3 separate regions of the Homo sapiens genome follow, and all the other regions are linked to region 1. Evidence: fine-mapped expression QTL. A gene starts in region 1. Each other region holds a variant in brackets. All regions are shown on one strand. Distances are from middle to middle. Region 1 holds the start of RWDD3 (RWD domain containing 3). Region 2 has its middle 8.2 kb from the start of LINC01650. Region 3 overlaps TLCD4 (TLC domain containing 4).

Evidence for each region.
Region 2: its variant is fine-mapped to the expression of RWDD3 in vagina (GTEx, PIP 0.96).
Region 3: its variant is fine-mapped to the expression of RWDD3 in whole blood (TOPMed, PIP 0.97).

What each region holds. Positions count from the first base shown.
Region 1 is chr1:95,231,244-95,237,946 of GRCh38, forward strand. RWDD3 (RWD domain containing 3) reads left to right here and starts at 2,967. Exons shown (of 4, transcript NM_015485.5): 1 at 2,967-3,072. The coding sequence starts at 2,988. All of the region lies in intron 7 of TLCD4-RWDD3 (TLCD4-RWDD3 readthrough), which reads left to right. It overlaps RWDD3-DT (RWDD3 divergent transcript), which reads right to left and starts at 2,739. Exons shown (of 4, transcript NR_125949.1): 1 at 2,457-2,739. RefSeq lists silencers at 2,708-3,037, 3,248-3,427.
Region 2 is chr1:95,340,508-95,347,210 of GRCh38, forward strand. No RefSeq gene overlaps it. Among named protein-coding and RNA genes, the nearest start is that of LINC01650, 8.2 kb to the right of the region's middle. The variant G/A (reference allele first, on the strand shown) is at 2,913.
Region 3 is chr1:95,184,999-95,191,701 of GRCh38, forward strand. It overlaps TLCD4 (TLC domain containing 4), which reads left to right. Exons shown (of 7, transcript NM_152487.3): 7 at 6,552-6,703. All of the region lies in intron 6 of TLCD4-RWDD3 (TLCD4-RWDD3 readthrough), which reads left to right. The region is part of intron 3 of RWDD3-DT (RWDD3 divergent transcript); the gene reads right to left. Among named protein-coding and RNA genes, the nearest start is that of RWDD3-DT, 46 kb to the right of the region's middle. The variant C/T (reference allele first, on the strand shown) is at 3,880.

The sequences.
Region 1 (6,703 bases):
ATACACTTGAAATTGTGCATTCTCATTTCTATGCTCACGTGAGTTTTGACTTAAGATTTCAAACTCAGAGTTGAGTAAGTCTACATACTACTCATGAGAAAGTGAGTAGAACTGTTTCCCCCCAAAATGAAAAGAACTATCTTCTGGGTTATTGGTTTTAACTGAAGGTGAAAGGTTTTAAACCTTTTCCCCTTATGGTCTTGGGGAAGCAACTATTTAGAAAATTTGCTTGTAAAAATAATACTTGTAAAAATAATAATTGTTCTAGCAAATCATACACCTTTGTGTGTGTAAGGGTGAGAAGGGAGAGAGAGAGATGGAGGTAGACAATGCTCTAACTGTAGACATTCATCCTACATTTAAATATTTTGAATTTTCAGTAGCCTGTGAATACGAGGAAACTTATTACATTAAGGTAGACTTTAGAGATTTGACATGTAGCTGATATTTTCACAGTGCAAGAAATATCAAGCTGACATTATGCAGTCTCTGAGATGATTATTTCCAAATGTCAGAGTGCAGAAACTTATTCATGGGACTTCAGTGCCTTAGGATAGTGTCAATTTAAAAGACATTCACATTGACTTCTTTTTTATTTAAACATGCTAAATGAGGTATGAAAAGCAGATTAAGAAATCAACTGAGAAAGGAAGAGCAAAGAAGAAACCTATTGACAAGAAAATTTTAAATCATAGATTGATGTACTCTTTAATCAATTTTCATGGACCTATTGCTGACAGCAGGCTTTAGCAACTGCCTCCTAATCCTTCCTACAGCTGTAATTTTGCTCTTCATGTTATTTCACTCATCTCACTTATAGTGAATTTGGAAAATTAAAAATAAGTAAAAACTATTTGAATATTTTATAGATTTTTTTTTGCTCTTGAGACGGAGTCTCGCTTGGTTGCCTAGGCTGGAGTGGTGCAAAGGTGCGATCTCGGCTCACTGCAACCTCCGCCTCCCGGGTTCAAGCGATTCTCCTGCCTCAGCCTCCTGAGTAGCTGGGATGATAGGTGCTTGCCACCACGCCCAGCTAAATTTTGTATTTTTAGTAGAGACAGCATTTCACCATGTTGGTCAGGCTGGTCCCGAACTCCTGACCTCAGGTGATCCACCCGCCTCGGCCTCCCAAAGTGCTGGGCTTACAGGCATGAGCCACTGCGCCCAGCCTATTTTATAGATTATTTTCAATAAATAAGTCAAAAACCAAATTGTTTGACTTTTCATAGTAACACTGGATTTCGAATTAAAATAACTTAGTAATATTTTAAATTAAAAACGTATTCTTTTGTTCAATCTCTTTAGCAGTTAATTATGAACCTACTGAACTGCTGGAACGTCTGTTATTTTGGAAATAAAGGAGTTTTTTTTTTCTTCAAGCCAATTGGCCATATCAGAGATAACTGCATTTAAATAAGCCTTCATCTTCCCAATTATGTGCTCCTAATTACTCGGGGTCACTGAAATCCCATGGCATCTTCTGAAAAGCATTTTCCCTGCAGTCCATCTTGTTAGGTTTCCTTTCTGTTCCGGGAAGCCAGTATCTTTTCCTTTATCAGATTCCTTTTTTACCAACAGCGGGAATGGTAATGGTGAATGGATGCAGGGTTTTAAAATCAGCCAACTTTGTTCTGACTTCCGTAGGTCAGTGACTGGAGTCACTGCCTAACAACCTAAATTCCCAGATTTATCTCATGAAATGTGATTTCTCATACAAACAAAAGTTGTGAGAACTCCATGAGCAAGACCAGCTGCTTGTGGGGACTGCCAAATTTTAAACTGTTATTTGAACAGCAAAAAGACCAGGCAAACATCCGAGAGACAGACCTAACTGCAGATAAGTCTTGTAATCTTGTTCACTATAGTCAAAACAGAATGGATTGCTTATTCTGTTACCCTATTGGTATTGCTCACATTTTAAAATTTAGGTGCTGGGCTCAAGAATGATAATTTTATTATTAAGCTTCAAGAGTCACATTGTATTGTATGCATTGAATATCACGAAATCGAAAACACTGAAAAGCTAGCGTTTACATTCTTGGATCATACCCCCAAAGGCCAAGGATTCCCACTGGCCGCTTGCAGCAGGGCTGTCTCCTGTGAAGGCAAGAGACAAACGAGGAGCGTTATGACACTTTGCTCCCAGGACTTTGGCGCACAGTTCCCATGAGTCCAGGTCCGTCCAGTCAACATCCTGAAGCCAGGACTGGCAGGTCCTGACCCTCCCTTTTTGCACCCGTAAGGGGAAGGGCCCGGGAATCTGGACCTTGTCTAGAGTCCCGGCGCCAGTACCAGTTCGGAGGGCATCCTGGAGGTTGTTACTAACCCGAGCCTCTTCCAGGCTTCCCAGGCACCAGGGTTGCTAACAGCTCCACGGGGGCGAATAATTTTGTTTATTTTGTTAACTGTGGTTATCTCCAACACTCAGTTCAGACCTGAGCCGGGCAAAGTCTCACCTTGTCTCCTGGTCACTTCCCTGCTTGTTTGTTTCTTCCTAACTCCCAAGTGTCTTTCGCCCAGTTCATCCCCACCTCAGCAGCCCAAGGCTCGGCGGGGACGGTCGGGGTTCGAAGCCTGCAGCTAAACTTAGAGGGTTCAGGCTTTGCTGGGAGGCCTCCCTGTGCTCAGAAGAGCCGGGGGTAAGCTGGGCGGTCGCCTTGGGTGCAGACAGAGGCGCAGGGCCTCGGCCTCCAAGAAAATTCCCAAACCGAGAGGCTGAGCTTCGCGTCTGTAGTTACTGAGCAGGAGCTTCTGGGCGGAACTTCTAAGGGCCCCGCCCGCCCCGTCTGCCCTGACCCTCGCCCGGACTCGCCTCGCCCACGTCCCGTTTCGCTTCGCCCCAGCTCCGTCTCGCCCCGCCCCCGTCCCGCCCGGTTGCGGAGGCGCGGGGCGCCCCCGGGTGGCCGCGGGCAGTGCTGCTCCTGGCCGGTGGAGGCGGCGGCTGCGGCAGCGGAAGGGGAAGCGCTGAGGCGGTGGGGCCCACAGCCATGGCGGAGCCTGTGCAGGAGGAGCTCTCGGTCCTGGCCGCGATTTTCTGCAGGCCCCACGAGTGGGAGGTGCTGAGCCGCTCAGGTGACTACCCGCGCGCGGGAGGGACAGGGCGCCCTCAGGGGCCACCCGCGTTCGCTTTGCGTCTCCTCCCCACCACGGAGCCTGGGCACCCCGCCTGGGCCCACGTATGGGGACCGGGTTAGTTGAATGATGGAATGACACGCCCGGAGGCCGGAGTGGTGTCGCAGCGGGCGGGAGTGTGAGGCGACCCCAGAAACACTAAGAGAGCGGCGCGGCCCACTGGGGCCTCTGCCGCCGGTCCCGCTCCCGGAGCCGGGGGCCCCTGCGTGCGCACCCCCAGGCCCTCCCCCAGCCTCCCACCCCTCAGATCTCACCCTATAAAGAAGCCTGTGCTGACGCCCCCTCGTTGTTCTGTGTCCTTCCTAAGCACTATGCCCTAGGCCCCCCCGAGAGCACTCCCCGGTTCTAACTCTACACGGGTATTTGTAGGTCTTAAGTTGCAGGAGGGCAGGGTCTGTTTGGTAATGACTCCAGGCACCTGGTAGGTAGTAGGTAAATGTTTGTTGACTGAACTTTTTCATTTATCCAGTGCTCAACCTCAACTTTATCTGCATTCTATTTCCAAGTTGATTGCTTTTCTGATACTTTTTTTTTTTTAGGTGGAGTCTCTCTTGTTGCCCTGGCTGGAGTGCAGTGGATCCATCTGGACTCACTGCAGCCTCCGCCTCCCGAGTAGCTGGGATCACAGGCGCGTGCCACCATGCCTGGCTGAATTTTATTTATTTTATTTTATTTATTTTTTATTTTTTAAGACGGAGTCTTGCTTTGTCGCCTAGGCTGGAGTGCAGTGGCGCGATCTCGGGTCACTGCAACCTCCGCCTCCCGGGTTCACGCCATTCTCCTGCCTCAGCCTCCCGAGTAGCTGGGACTACAGGCGCCCACCACCACGCCCGGCTAATTTTTTGTATTTTTTTTTTTAGTAGAGACAGGGTTTCACCGTGTTAGCCAGGATGGTCTCGATCTCCGGACCTCGTGGTCCGCCCGCCTCGGCCTCCGAAAGTGCTGGGATTACAGGCGTGAGCCACTGCGCCCGGCCTTTTTTTTTTTTTTTTTTTTTTTTTGAGACAGAGTCTTGTTCTGTCCCCCAGGCTGGAGTGCAGTGGCGCGATCTCGGCTCACTGCAAGCTCCACCTCCTGGGTTCACACCATTCTCCTGCCTCAGCCTCCCGAGTAGCTGGCACTACAGGCGCCTGCCACCATGACTGGCTAATTTTTTGTATTTTTAGTAGAGACGGGGTTTCACCATGTTGGCCAGGCTGGTCTCAATCTCCTGACCTCGTGATCCGCGCGTCTCGGCCTCCCAAGGTGCTGGGATTACAGGCGTGAGCCACAGGTGCCTGGCCTTCTGATACTTTTTTTTAAACAAGCTCTTGAGGGCTTTATTAGTCATTTAGCCCACATTTATTGAATCCCTGCTGCCTACAGACTTTGTCAGGGTTTCAGAGACACCGCTACCCATGGCCTCTAGGAGCTTACAGTGTAGAGAGGTTCTTTTGACTATTTTTTGATGATAGGTGAAACTTACTGTCCCTGTATGTGGCTTCTATTGAATAAAAAAAAAAGAAAAAACACTGCCATGTATGAGAAAGTGACTCAGTTTTCACTTAGCTTTCAGATACATTATGTACATGTTTGGGGCATGAGATTTATCGTTCTAATGTTATATTGTAGCTACCATTAAAATTGGCTTTCTGACCATAAATTGGTTAACCTTTAAGAAGGTAGTCTAGGCCTGGCGCGTGGCTCATGCCTGTAATCCCAGCACTTTGGGAGGCCGAGGCGGGCAGATCACCTGAGGTCAGGAGTTCAAGACCAGCCTGGCCAACATGGCGAAACCCCATCTCTACTAAAAATACAAAAATTAGCTGGGCATGGTGGCACACGCCTGTGATCCTTGCTACTCGGGAGGCTGAGGCAGGAGAATCACTTGAACCCGGGAGGCGGAGGTTGCAGTGAGCCAAGATCTCACCATTCATTGCACTGCAGCCTGGGTAACAAGAGTGAAACTCTGTCTCAGAAAAAAAAAAAAAAAGTAGTCTAAAAATGGGCTGGATGTTGTGAGAAAACCATTTAAGATTAAGATCCTTCATGATATCCATTGGGTGTGTTATTCACTGAAGGACAGGGAGTTGACTTCCATTTATTCCTTCTTGCATTCATCCACTCACATCCACTCATTGGGCACTGTTATGTTCCAGGCACTATGCACCTATTAGTGTAATGGAGTTGCTTTCTTTTTAGTGCCCAGCCTGACTTGTATCTTTTGAAACAATTGTTTAAAATCCATATGAAGGGGTTTACTCACTTTTAGTGTTTTCTTGTCATCCCTCTTCTGATTGGATAATTCTTCACCATCTCCCTCTCTGTCTCCACTGTTCTCTTTATTGATAATTACTTCTGCCTGAGGCAGCTATTTGAAGAGATCATCAGTTTTCCTAAATTCCTTTATTATGGCTCAGTTGGGAATATCCTGGAAAAATGAACCTGCAATTTCCCATCACACCTTAAAGAACTGGTAATGGTCTGGGTCATTAGTACACAGCTGAGCATAAAACACTGCTGAAGGGTCAGAGAAAACCCAAAAATGTAAGCATAGAAAGAAAACAGTTTCTTAATCTTGAGAACACTGTGAACCCTTTATCTGCTGTTAAATTGAGCATGACTTTCAAGCCATGCCTCCTAATTAGTTTAATTCCATGTTCTGGCATCAATAAGTAATTGAATTATAAAAGAATTCAGTGTAACAACTTAGGACATTTTGTTGCTGAGAGGTAGAATAATTCAGTGATTGAAATGGGGATGTTTGATGTTCACAAGTGGGAATTAAGGGGGTAAGGTAAAGGCCTTTTTTTTTTTTCCCATGATTTTCGTAACATCTTTTTACAAAGTAAGGACTTCTTTAACAGACCACAGTAAACATGCAGCAGACTGCTGGCTACCACTCACCATCACTGTCAGTTTGGGTTGGAGGATACACACTTGATACCAGAACACTCTAAACACTAGTTCTTTTCTGGCCTCCCCCAAATAAGGTTCTCCCTTTTGCCACTGGAATCAGGAGAATGTTGCAGAGGAATTGCATTCCTGGTAACAAGATAACCCAGCAAGACTCAGACTGCTAACCCAAGGATCAACTATTAAGGCCGTAAGATTGAAGAAGCTAAATAATTGGATTCCATTTAGCTGGACTAATTTTATGCTGAGAATTTCAGGGGATTTTATCTGCCTTTTGATCTCTTTACAATGGTTATAGTAAGCTTCTAGTAAGAGGCATAACCATCTCTTAGGGGTGCAAATTAAGTAAGTCCCTACACTCCCATCTACAAGGGAGGGCTGTGGATAGACCACATTAGGGATATTCTGTTTTTCTGTATGCATTGTAGTCAGTCCAGGTGCCAGATTTGATGGGGTGACCTGCCATGTACGTGATACTTGAAATGCATCTTACTTGATGAGGGGTACTATTGGTCTTACTTCACAGAGAAGATAACTGATACTCAGACTGGTTAAATAACCACCAGGCTCCAGGTGTATGGGCCTTTGCACTGCATCATGCTCCTTAATAGAGAGATGGGGCTGTTGCATCAGGAAAATAGTTCTTGGAAAGCAAGGAAATACTTGTGCAGAAAGA
Region 2 (6,703 bases), 110 kb after region 1:
GCTGCTAGTTAACAATATTTAGACTATATATAATAGATATATGCATATATTTATAAACATATTTATAATCTGATTTTTTTTTTCACTTATTTTGTAAGTACTTTTTCCCAGTCAATTTCACATATATTTTCAGTTCCCTTAACTGTCAAATGAAGATAATATGATATTATTTCACAGGATTATTGTGAGGATTATATGAAATTGTGCATTCAAAACCCTGAGAGCAAAGTGAGGCCCCTTGTAAGTGATCCATGAATGGTAGTCCCTTTTCTCCTTTCTCTTGTTCAGTCTTCATGTTATGAAATCAGTAGCCCTAGCAGTGGCTAAAGAGAACATGTTCCCTGGAATACTTTGTCAGGTGTTAATAGATATTGGATAAGAGGGGTCCTACGGGCAATGGATTCGGAGAATGTGATATAAACAAATTTAAGCATGTATCTTTACAAAGGACTTCTTAAAGACTTTAATAAGCTCATCTGCTTTGTACATATTCAGAAAAGGATAGATATGCAATATTTCTCACAGTTAATTGACCTCAATGAGTGTCTCATGAAGTACAATTTGTAATGTGGATGCCTGAATCCCCTGGGGTCTTACTTTAAGGTCTCCTTAGAGGCAGTGGTCAGAGCCTGTGAGAAAAGCTCCAGTTAAATGGGCCTGTTTTGCCAAACTGCCCACCTTACTAGTCCACCCTGGGTTGGCATCAGTAGTTATATAGAGTAAGAAATTCAAGGCCCTCAAACAATTTTATTGATCCTGCATTGCTTTAGTAATAATGCCATAAACAAATGCACCCACTGAACAGCAGTTAGTTGATGCTGGCTAACAAAGCCACCCCTCTTGCTATCATTGATTTTATCTTTAGCTACCTATTTTCCCAGAAGAACTAAAGGAGGTGATTTTATTTCTGTTGATTCCATTCTTGAGATCGTTATGTTGATTATGCGTATTCTCTTCTTTTCATGTAGATGTTTGAAATTTCTCTAGGAAACATTTTCTCCTGCCTAAGATTGCACAGAGCATCATTTTTAACACGTAGTAAATGTTGCTGAGTAGAAAAATGTGTGCATTACAACGTATTTTTGCAAAGTAAGAGGTTTATATCTTTGTAATTATTTTCAATGTGTGTTTATTGATTTTTATAATACAGGGATATTAACTTGAAAGAGAACAAATTACATACAACAAATTAAGCACTTGCATGGATTAGAAAATCGAGGTAGTGCACTCAAGGCATGACTAATACGAGAGTGTTGCACGATAGAAGAACTGTGTGGTTTTACACCACATCTGGGAGGATTTCATCCAGCTACTTGTCTGAAAGGATCTTTAACTGAAATGCAGGTGCAAGATGGCATAAATTTATAGAATTAGAGAATTTTAGAACTGGAAGAGAACCTTAGATAAAGAAAGTGAGGATAAGAAAAATCAAGAATCATATTCAAGATTATAGAAAACTGGTGGCCTGGCCAGAGCTAGAACCTATGTTCCTGGACATTGGTCTTGTGTTGACATCCCAACTACATATAGTTTCTTCTTGAGTTTTTGTGACATCATTGATCAGCTTTGTAACCTTGGACAAATAACTCTTTCCTCATTCATAAAATAAGAACAGCACCCAAATGATTTGTATTAGTCCGTTTTCATACGCTATAAAGAGCTGCCCAAGAGTGGGTAATTTATAAAGGAAAGAGGTTTAACTGACTCACAGTTCAGCATGGCTGGGGAAGCCTCAGGAAATTTACAATCATGGCGGAAGGCAAAAGAGAAGCAAAGCCCCTTATTCACAAGGCAGCAGGAAGGAGAAGGAAAGCAGGAGGAACTACCAAACACGTATAAAACCACTCGTGAGAACTTACTCACTATCATGAGAACAACATGGGGGAAACCGTCTTTATGATTCAATTACCTCCACCTGGTCTCTCTCTTGACACGTGGGGATTATGGGGATTAAAATCCAAGATGACACTTTGAGTGGGGACACAGCAAAATCATATCATAAAGAGAAAATATGTATAGATGTAGCATTAGGTTTAGCACAAATTAATATACACTATCACTTTATTCATTTGGCATGTATTTATTGAATCTGTATGAAGTTTCAGGCCCTAATTTCTTTGAGAACAGATTTTTCCTTCCAGTGCAGATATTTACCATAAGCATTTAACATAATTTACATGACATATTTTTCAGTGTGTAGGGAAAATATTTTACATTTGACTACAATAATCGCAAAGAAGACATATTCAAAAATTCTCAAATTCTAAAATTCAAAGACTTGTTATATGATGTGAAACCCATTTGACTAAAGTTGCTATATAAACTACTTATTAATTTACTAACTTATAAATAACTTTTTAAAAAGGGAAATGACAAGTGATATTCTTATTCTCTAAAATAATGGATCAGAAGCACTTTTCTCCAGGAAGGTAAGAGTGCTGCTAGCCCAGTGGGGCCAAAGCTTTCAAGGGATGGAGCAGCTGAAAGGGTCCAAACATCTCTTGCCTGCCATGCGTCTCAGACCTTTTCTTTCAATTTGTCTCCTTCTCAGTTCAGTCTCCTAGTTTGATATGTACCTGAGGTTTGGGGCAAAATGATTTCAAAATGGATAATGAAAATTTTTCAGGATTCAGAACAACTCAGTTCATGGTGCTCATCCCCTGGTTCTGCTTCTTTCTAAGGACTGGAGTTGAAATTTGTAGAAATAAAAGACTAGGTGAATGGTGATCAGGTATCACTTGTTAACCAGTGCTGAGGGCACTCCCTCCCAAGATGACTTTGGATCTTCTAGTAGTTTCTTAGAACTTGACAGTGGGTTGGAAGGAGCAGGGTGTAGGAATCAATAGTGGATTGATTTGAATATCCTCTTCAGCAGGACCTGACGTGTCTCTTAAGGTTAATGTGACAGGTGA[G/A]CCCATGGCTTATCTTGGCTAGCTCTGGGCAAGAGGAGGTCTACAAGACAGTAAAATTTGTTGGAATTGTCATACAGTTTCAGATTGATAACTGGAAGTTTTCCACCAGATCACATCTATGCTTTAAGGGAACATGATCTCTAGATCTTTCTGGCGTGTTTGTTATACTTCTCCTTTTGATTGATTGCCTTTCGTGGTTCAAAATGCTACAGAAATATTAGTAGTTTGTTCTTATAACACACTTTTTAAAAAGTTGTTTTGAGCTAGTGTCAACTTTTCTAATAAGTTGAACAGGTTCATTCTTCAATTCATATTTGGAAGCTTGATATTACAGCGAAGTTTCCACTTTCATAAAGAATCAGTAATTACACATTAGTATTTGTTATCATCTAATCCTTGTATATATTTCCCTTCCCCTTATGAAATTTGAAAATATTTTCTAAATTTAATTATATTGCCTCAAATCTTAAATATTATGTGGGAAAATATGATGCTTCCTATAGAATAGTCCCCAACTTACAGATTATTTATTTCTTATGTTTATTTCAAAACTTGCTCGTTTGAAACTCAGAAAGCACTTATCCAAAGAAATACTATGAATATGGTTATATTTCTAAACAATTTTTTTCATCCATAATGTACCTGAAATATTTTACATTTATATTGTAAGGTAGACAGAAAAACAGTTGCTAAAATAGCAAACAAGAACAAAATTGTAAAAACAGACAAGGAAGTCAATATTTATTTATATTAAATGCTAGGTTTGGGGAAAACCAATTTTAATTATAGGAGAATTTTTGGAACTTTAGGAGAGCCCCTGAAGGGATTTTCAGAATCATGAAAAGTTTGTTGTGTGGGCTCTTCAATACATTGAGTTTTGATGTTCTATTCTTTCATACAAGTGTATTAGTAACATTGTATTTATATAACCTCAGCTACGGCCAGGGCAATTCTTTGGTTTCATATATAAATTTGGGAGAGTGAGTATAAGACAGGAATTAGTAGAAGAACTGCTGCAGAGCATTGAAGGCCATTTAGAGGATGACATCAGGAATTGGAAATGGGGCTGCTAAGGACTGACTTCTGTCCTCTCAAGGCTCATATGTTGAAGCTCTACCCACAGTGTGATGGTGTTTGGATATGGGGCCTTGGGGAAACAATTAGGTTTAGATAGGGTCACAAGGGTGGATTTCCCCATGATGGGATTAGTGCCCTTGTAAGAAAAGAAAGAGACACCAGAGCTTCCTCTCTGTGGCCATGAGGACACAGGTAGAAGGCAGTCATCTGCAAGGCAGAAAGATAGCCCTTGCCAGGAGCCCAGTCATGCTGGCACCTCAATCTTGGACTTCCAGCCTCTAGAACTGTGAGAAATACATGTCGGCTGTTTAAACTACCCAGTGTATGATATTTTGTTGTAGCAGTCAAGCTGATTAATACAGGGGCCAGATTATGGAATCCTGTGATCCTCTCCAGAGGTGAAATGCATGGTTTACAGCATGGTTCCAGGGTTGAGTTTTCAATTAATGGTAAAGGGGAAGGACAAATACTATGGAGTGGAAAGCAGGGGAAAGAAAATGCTTTGGATGATCAAATTTGGGGTCTTGGCAAGCAGGGAAGAGAAGAATCAGGAAGAATTCATCTTGCAAGGAAGTGGAGGTTTGAGGGAATTGGAGGCTAATTGTTGGACATTCATTTCTGGGAGAGTGCTATATTGATGTGGTTAAGACTTACTACGTAGCCTTGTGAACAAACTGGCTTTTCTGTGACATTCAGACATGGAATTTGAAGCTTTATGTTTTTTTTAAGTAAAATCCGTGGTTTTTAAATTTTTCTACTTTTTTACATTGAACATTTTGAAATATTTTTAATAATCCATATTAGTGTACAGTGTAATGTGTAGTTCTTTTGCTTAATGATACTTATAAGTTCTGATTTCTCTCTCTGAATAATTTTCATATTTGGTGCTTACATAAGGCTTCACAAAATCTTGTGCAATTGTCTAATAAACTAGTCTTATGTTTGTGTTAAGAGAAAAAAAATCAAAGACATGGAATATTTGTTATGGTCAAATGTGAATATGTTGGTTCTAGGACAAGACACTGCTGAAACATCACTCTAACACTCCCACCCTAGTTTTGAATGGGGGTGGGTGTGGATGGGTTTTCAGATTTTTTACTCAACATTTCACAGATGTTTCCAAATGTCTTTGTGCTACTGTAACATGCGAGTGCTTTTCTCCATTCATCTTCTGAGTTTCTTTTGGGGATCAAGTGAGATAATGCTCATGCAAGCTCCTTGTAAATAGTCACGTTCTATGCATGTGTTAATTCTTCTCTGCCTTGCTATTTAGATACAATGGCTATACTCAAACAAATACATCGAGGGCAACTTCCAGGACCAAAAGCTACAGCTCGGCACTTTTCCCTGCTACACTCCTGGGTTTACTTCTTAGTGAATGCTAAATGCTTGTGGCAGGATCCTGACCCCAAATCATTACAATGGATAGACTGTGCGCGCACAGCTTAAACTATACGTGCGCTTGCTGCAACATGATGGATATAACGGCTTGCTGAGAATTTGATTTATTTTCCAATAGTTTAGCATCCCTCTGCTTTTATCTGATATGACTATTTTACAAGCGTGTGTACCAAGCATGGCTTCAAAATTGCAGGTTATGAAATATAGAAAATGGAACAATTGCCGTGCATAGCAGAAATCTTCCTGTTCAGTCTGCATGCGTATATTTTAAAGTAAGATGGACTGCTGAATGGTGAGGAGCTTGCCTTGGGCTTCATTTTTTTCCCCTACAGGTGAAAGGAAATGCAAGACTTTCTTCTTCATTTTCAACTTCATATTGTTAGTTAGTTTTTCACAGGCTGGTCTGTGATGATGGGTTTTTGCCTTATCATTTGCTGGCATAATAAAAATGACATGATGATGCAGAAGAGAGCAGTTCCCCTTTAGGATGGAACAGAACAGCCAATACCAGTGATGGAAACATAGCAGGCTGATGGGGATGACTCCCCCTTTCTCATTTCACCTCAACCCAGTTCTCCATTTTCAATAATACACTTGTTTACTGAGAAATGGTCATCAGTACACTTGTTTACTGAGAAATGGTCATCAGATGCATAGGTTTGTGCATAGGAAGGACTGGCTAGTTGACAGTCTGCGTGGCTGAGGTACCAGCACAGCAACACTGTTCCTAGAAGGTCAGCTTGCCTCAGTGGAGGTTATATGTAATTTGGAGTTCTTACCTGAAATATTTCTCTTCCCCACACCATCATAATTGACTCTTGCCTGTGCCTAATTGGGACCTAACAAAAGAGCAAACTGAGGGCTGGTTCGCCTCTAATAACACTCCTACTCTGTTGGAGGTTTCCTTTAGTGCAGCTGTGTGGAAGGGATTGCCAGCCAGTATGGACCCTGATTGTCATCACTCCAAACAGACTTAAGCAGAAGCCAAGTGTGACAGACTTAGAACCTTGTGCTGGTGTAGCAGAGCAGGCATGTTAATGGGTAATGCAAGGAGGCTGAGGGATTAAATGTGCAGCTATTCTTTGGATATGTCAGGGATGTCTGTCATCTAGGACTTTCTCCCTGGACTAAGTACTCACCAATGCATTAAAATACTTGGTGAAAACTCAGATAACAACCCCACTTTCATGGGTAGACAACTCTATCAACTTACGTTTCTTATATGCCATGATGCTCTTGAGTTTCTCCAGTTTAGAGACACACTGCACTATGTATCTCTTTCTTTTGCTCCGCTGTATATCTTGGATAATTAA
Region 3 (6,703 bases), 46 kb before region 1:
AGGAAGCTATGGGTGACCAATTTCTTTTTTTTTTTCTTTTTTTTTAAATTATACTTTAAGTTTTAGGGTACATGTGCACATATGTAACTGACTAATTTCTTTTGTAGAGTTGCAGTCATATCGTCTTGGGTTTGGGAGTGTAGTAAGAATGTCTGTGAATATGTCTGACTCTCCTTTCAAAAAACTGGCAAAGAAGAGAAGCAGTGGAGGGGAGGTTTTTGGATTAGCAGGAATTGAGCACGTTGGTAAAAGAAGAATCAATTTATAGAAGGGGAACTTGGTAGAACAAGGGAAGGCAGGGTAGTTTATTGAATAAATCCTAGAAGATGAGGACTCTCCTCTGAGTTGAAAGGTAAAGGTGCCTGAGAAGAAGTTTTGAGATCTTGGGGTCAGAGTGGAAGGAATTCATGGTTGATGGACTCTAATGCAGTTGACTCCCGAACAACATGGGTTTGAACTGTATGAGTCCACTGACACATCTATTTTTTTCAATAAAATTTGCACTAAGTGTGCCTGCCTTTCCTTCCAACTTCGTCACCTCTTCCACCTCTGCCACCTTTGCGACAGCAAGTCCAACTCCTTCTCTTACTCAAGGCTAGTTAACGTGAAGACGACGAGAATGAAGACCTTTACAAAGATCCACTTTCACTTAATAGTACATATATTTTCTTTTCTTTATGATTTTCTTTTCTCTAGAAAATAACGTTTTTCTCTAGCTTTATTATAAGAATATAGTATATAATGCAAATAACATAAAATAATGTTAATTGACTTTATGTTATTGGTAAGGCTTCTGGTCAACAATCAGGTGTTTGGGCAAGTCAGAAGTCAAGCAATTTTCAACTGTGTGGGGAGTCAGCACCCCTAACCCTGGTGTTGCTCAAGAATTAACTGTATATCAGTAAGAAACCAGATGCTCTGATGGGATTGAGAGACAAAAGTGAATGAGGAAGGGAATTGACTTGAATGGCAGGACAGGTTTGGAAGCAATTATATGGGAACTATGGAGTGAAATGAAAGGACTGTCGAGCCAGTTTGAGAATTCTGCTGAAGTTCAAATCTTTTAAAATTATATTTGTGCCATTTATCTTAATAAAGATTGGTGGGTAATGATATTTATTGAATTTACAGTATGGGGGAGTTGTTACTCTGTGTCATGGCAGCTTCATAGTACAAAGGAGGTACTATCATTTATCCCCATTTATAGAGATAGAACAAACATAGAGGTGAATAGCAGAGAGAGCTAAGACCACACAGTTGCTCCATGGCAGAACCAGGCTTTCAACCCAGGCGGCCTGACTGCAGAGCACCCTAGCTACTCTTCACGTCATTCTGTATTGCCTAAGGAAAGCTGGCTTGATGAAACACTGGAGATCAGCAGAGTGGGTGAGATAGATGAAGTGGCAAGAGAACGGAGGGTGCTGATGTGTGTTCTGAAGTTAACTTGGAGTTTGGATTAGGTAGGAAAGGAAGTGAAAGCGTGGAGGCTGATAGAGAGAGATTTGAGGATTTGAAGGTCAAAGAAGTAGTTTAGGTGAGATTGGGTAAAGAGAAATATGGAAGGCTTATGATTAGAGAGGAATGGGTTCACTGAGGTATAATATTTCTTGAGTAATTCCAAGGCTGCCATGTAGTCAAAGAAATGAATGGCTGAAGGAGAAGGGAAGTCTTTGGAGAAGAGAAGGCTTGAGGATCAGAGACCTGGATTAGAATGTGGATGTCATTGCTTTAGTGATGTTTTTCCTATTTGCAGTATTATTTCATTAATTTAGCCATTGCTATCTAAATAGTCTTTCTTAATTGTCTTAGATAATTTAGCCCTTTTATCCTACATAAACTTATAAAATGTAATACATCTCTCATCCTATATAAATTATTTGATATTTTAATCACTCAATAAAATATTTTCAAGCTTTTTAACTATTAATTTTTAGTTTCTTATGTTGAACAATTTTAGCTTAATCATGACTAATTCAGTTAAATTGAATATTAAGATACACAGATATGTTTTACTGCCTTTGCAATTTGATCTCTAAAATGATGTAAAATTAGGCAAGGCAGTTTTTTTAAGGAAGAAAAAGTGGAATAGAGCGAATGTTCACTGACTTTTTAAAAACCTTTTTATCTTTAGAATAGTTTTACATTTACAGAAAAATCAGAAGGCTGATACAGAGGGTCCCTGTGTACCCCACACCCAGCTTCCCCTATTGTTAGCGTCATAGATCAGTGGGTGCAGTTGTTAACAATTAGCGAGCCAGTGTTAATATCTTATTGTTAACTAAAGTCCATACTTTGTGTGGATTTCTTTCGTTTTTGCCCAGTGCCCCTTTTCTGTCTCAGGATCCCTTCCAGAATGCCACACTACATTTAGTTTCATGTCTGCTTAGGCTACTGTTGGCTGTGATCGTTTCTCAGATGTCCTGTCTCTGGTGACCTTGACGGTTTTGAGGAGTACTGATCAGGTGTTTTGTAGACTGTCCCTCAATTTGGGTTTGTCTGATGTTTTTCTCATGATTACACTGGGGATATGGGGTTTGGGGAGGAAGACCACCGAGGGACAGTATCATTCTCATCACACATATTAGGACTGCATGCTGTGAACATGACTTAATCATTGTTGATGTTAAGCTTGTTCACCTGAGGTACTGTTTGTCCGGTTTCTCCATTTTAAAGTTATTCCTTACACCTGCCCTCCCCCTGCCCCTTCCATACTGTACACTTTGGAAGGAAGTCACTGTGTGTATTAGTTTGTTGGGGACTGCCATAAAAAATGCCACAGTCTGGGTGGCTTAAATAACAGAAATGTGTTTTTGCACAGTGCTGGAAGCCGGATGTCCAAGACCAAGGTGCCTGCAGGGTTGGTTCTTGGTGAGGCGCCTCTCCTCTTCTTGCAGGAGGCAACTTCTCTCTGTGTCCTCACATGGCCTCTTCTCCGTGTGTGCATGGAGGAAGAGGGAGAACTTTGGTCTCTCCTTTCTTTTAAGGGCACTGGTCCTATTGGATTGGAGCCTGACCCTTGTTACTTTATTTAACCTTAATTGCCTTCTTAAAGGACCTATCTTGAAATACAGTCACTTTGGGGCTTTAGGGCTTCAACATAAGAATTTAGCCGGGCGCGGTAGCTCACGCCTGTAATCCCAGCACTTTGGGAGGCCGAGGCGGGTGGATCACAAGGTCAGGAGATCAAGACCATCCTGGCTAACACGGTGAAACCCCGTCTCTACTACAAAATACAAAAAATTAGCCGGGCATGGTGGCGGGCGCCTGTAGTCCCAGCTACTCGGGAGGCTGAGGCAGGAGAATGGCGTGATCCCGGGAGGCGGAGCTTGCAGTGAGCCAAGATCGCGCCACTGTACTCCAGCCTGGGCGACAGAGCGAGACTCCGTCTCAGAAAAAAAAAAAAAAAAAAAAGAATTTAGTGGGAAACAGTTCAATACATTACACTATACACAGCCCACACTTGAGGACTAGGGGTTTATGCTTTACCTTGTTGAAGGTGTGATTTCTACATAAATTATTTGCAGTTATTCGGAACAGATTTGTTTCTTCTCCCCTATTCATTCATTCATTCATTTATATCAGTATTGATTTCTGGATATTTATTTTATACTTTAGGTTATAATCCAATACAACATTATTTATTTTGTTGCTCACATTGTGAGTTTTGGACCTGGAGAGCTCATTTGGTTGGTTTCTGTGTTCCTTTGACATAAAGAAACGTCATTTTGTTTTTTGAGCACTTTCTTGCTCTCTGGCCCTAAATGATACTCTAACAGGTTCATATTGTATATTGTGTATTCTCTGTTCCCAGCCCTCAAATCAGGTATTTCTCAAGGAACCCTAGTTTCTTTCATTGGAGAGTGGTATTAGAAGCCAACA[C/T]GTGGATGCCATGTATGCTCATTGTTACTGAGGCATCATTGTTTCTATGGGCTCCTAGCTGACAGAACCTGGAAATATGCTGACCTGTGTGTATACACCTATCTATAATTATTTCTGTATGTATGCATTTATAGCTATATCAAGCTAAAATAGTTCACTGTTTCCAAATCTAATCCAGTATCTCATGGAAAAAATCTAGCCGCCTCTTGCTTGTCTGAAACCTTTCTATCCAACAATGAGAAACCTGGTTCCCACTATTTTTCATCAAACAAATCCATTTATTTGTTCAGTCCTGATATACATGTATAATGGTTTCAGAATTGTTAATTGTTTTTGCGTGAACTAGAGTACATTGCCTGTATACAGTTTCTTTTGCCTTTGTCTTATAGTCTCCATCTTTGAAGTCACTTAGGTCAGCACCTCTTTCTACCTTACTCCTTTCAGGGATGTTATATCATGCATTTGTAACAGTTAAGATTCTTTTGTCACTGTTTGCATTGCATCCTGGTATCCCCCAACCTCCTAATTGATTGTTTAAAATTTTGCATACATCAGGTTCACTTTTTGTGCACTTCTGTGGGTTTTGATAAGTGCATAATGTCATGTATCCACCACTATAGTATTATGCAGAACAGTTTCACCACCCTAAAATATCCCTTGTTTTACCTACTCAATCCCCTTCCACTCTTTCCGAAACTCTGGTAACCACTATTCTGTTTTCTGTCTTGATACTTTTGCTTTTTCTAGAATGTCTATAAATGGAATCATACAGTGTACAGGATTTTCAGACTGATTTCATTTACTTAGCACTTTAGATTCATTCTTGCTGTTACATTGATAGTTTATTTTTATTGCTAAGTAGTATTCCAATGTATGGATGTACTACAATGTTTGTCCATCTTGATGGCTTGTAGTTGTTGGCAGTTATGAATAAAGCTGGTGTAAACACGTATGCAGCTTTTGTGTGGACATACATTTTTTAATCAGTTGGAAAAATACCTAGGAATGTGATTGCTGGTTTGTGTGCTATGAATATGTTTAGTTTTATGCCTGCTAAACTGTCTTCTAAAGTGGTTGTACCATTTTGCATTCCTAGCAGCAATGAATGTGTGTTCCTCTTGTTCCACACCCTTGCCAGCAATTGTTATTGTCCATTTTTTGGGATTTTAGCTATTTTAATAGGTGTGCATAGTATCTTGTTGCTAAAATTTGCACTTTCTTTTTTTTTTTTTTCTTTTTTTTTGAGACAGAGTCTCACTCTTGTTGCCTAGGCTGGAGTGCAATAGCACGATTTCGGCTCACTGCAACCTCTGCCTCCCAGGTTCAAGAGATTCTCCTGCCTCAGCCTCCCAAGTAGCTGGGATTACAAGAATGCGCCACCACACCCAGATAATTTTGTATTTTTAGTAGAGATGGGGTTTCGCCATTTTGGCCACATTGGTTTCTTTTCTTTTCTTTTCTTTTCTTTTTTGAGATGGAATCTTGCTCTGTCGCCCAGGCTGGAGTGTGGTGGTGTGATCTCGGCTCATTGCAACCTCTGCCTCCTGGGTTCAAGCAATTCTCTGCCTCAGCCTCTGAGTAGCTGGGATTACAGGTGCCCGCCGCCATGCCTGGCTAATTTTTGTATTTTTAGTAGAGACGGGGTTTCACTATCTTGGCCAGGCTGGTCTTGAACTCCTGACCTGATGATCCACGCTCCTCAGCCTCCCAAAGTGCTGGGATTACAGGGGTGAGCCACTGCGCCTGGCTGGCCAGGCTGGTTTCAAACCCCTGACCTCAGGTGATCCACCTGCCTCAGCCTCCCAAAGTGCTGGGATTACAGGCGTGAGCCACTGCAATTTGCACTTCCTAATGACAATAGTGAACATCTTTTTATATGCTTAGTTTTCATCTATATATATTTTCTGATGAGGTTTTTGTTATGCTCTTTTACCAGTGTTTTAATTGGGTTGTTTTCTTATTGTTGACTTTTAAGAATTCTTTGTGTACTTTGTATACATGTACTTTACCATACATGTATATTTTAAATATTTTTTCCTAGTGTGTGGTTGTCTTTTCTTTAACAGTGTCTTTCGCAGAGCAAGTTTTAATTTTAACGAAGTCCAACTTAACTAACTTTTTCTTCCATGGATGACACTTTTGGTGTTGTATCTAAAATAGCACCACCAGATGCAAGATCATACAGGTTTTTTTCCTTTTTTCTTATGGAAGTTTTATAGTTTTGCATTTTACATTTAGGTCTATGATCCATTTTGAGTTAATTTTTGTGTAAGGTGTGAGATCTCTGCTTAACTTCATTTTTCTCGATGTTGATATACAATTTTGCACACCTTGTTGAAAAGACTTTTTTTCTCCACTGAATTACCTTTATGCTTTTGTCACAAATCAGTTGAGTATATTTGTGTGGGTCTATTTCTGAGCTCTCTTTTCTCTTCCATTGGTTTATTGATCTTTCACTAACACCATGCTGACTTGATTACTGTCGCTTTATAGTTAAGTCTTGGAAATGGGTAGTGTGAGTCCTCCAACTTTGTTCTTTTTCAGCATTGCGTATGCTATTCTAGGCCCTTTGCTCCTCCTTCACTGAATTTTAAAATTTAAAAACTAAAATAAAAATGGTTAATCCTCAGAGATGCACTATAAATGTGATGTTTCTTTAATTCATTTTTCAGGTGGTTCTTTGAAGCTCTGAAGTATCCCAAGTTTTCTAAAGCTATCGTTATCAATGGAATACTCATGACAGTAGTATTCTTCATCGTGCGGATTGCCTCAATGCTTCCTCATTATGGCTTCATGTATTCCGTGTATGGAACAGAACCCTACA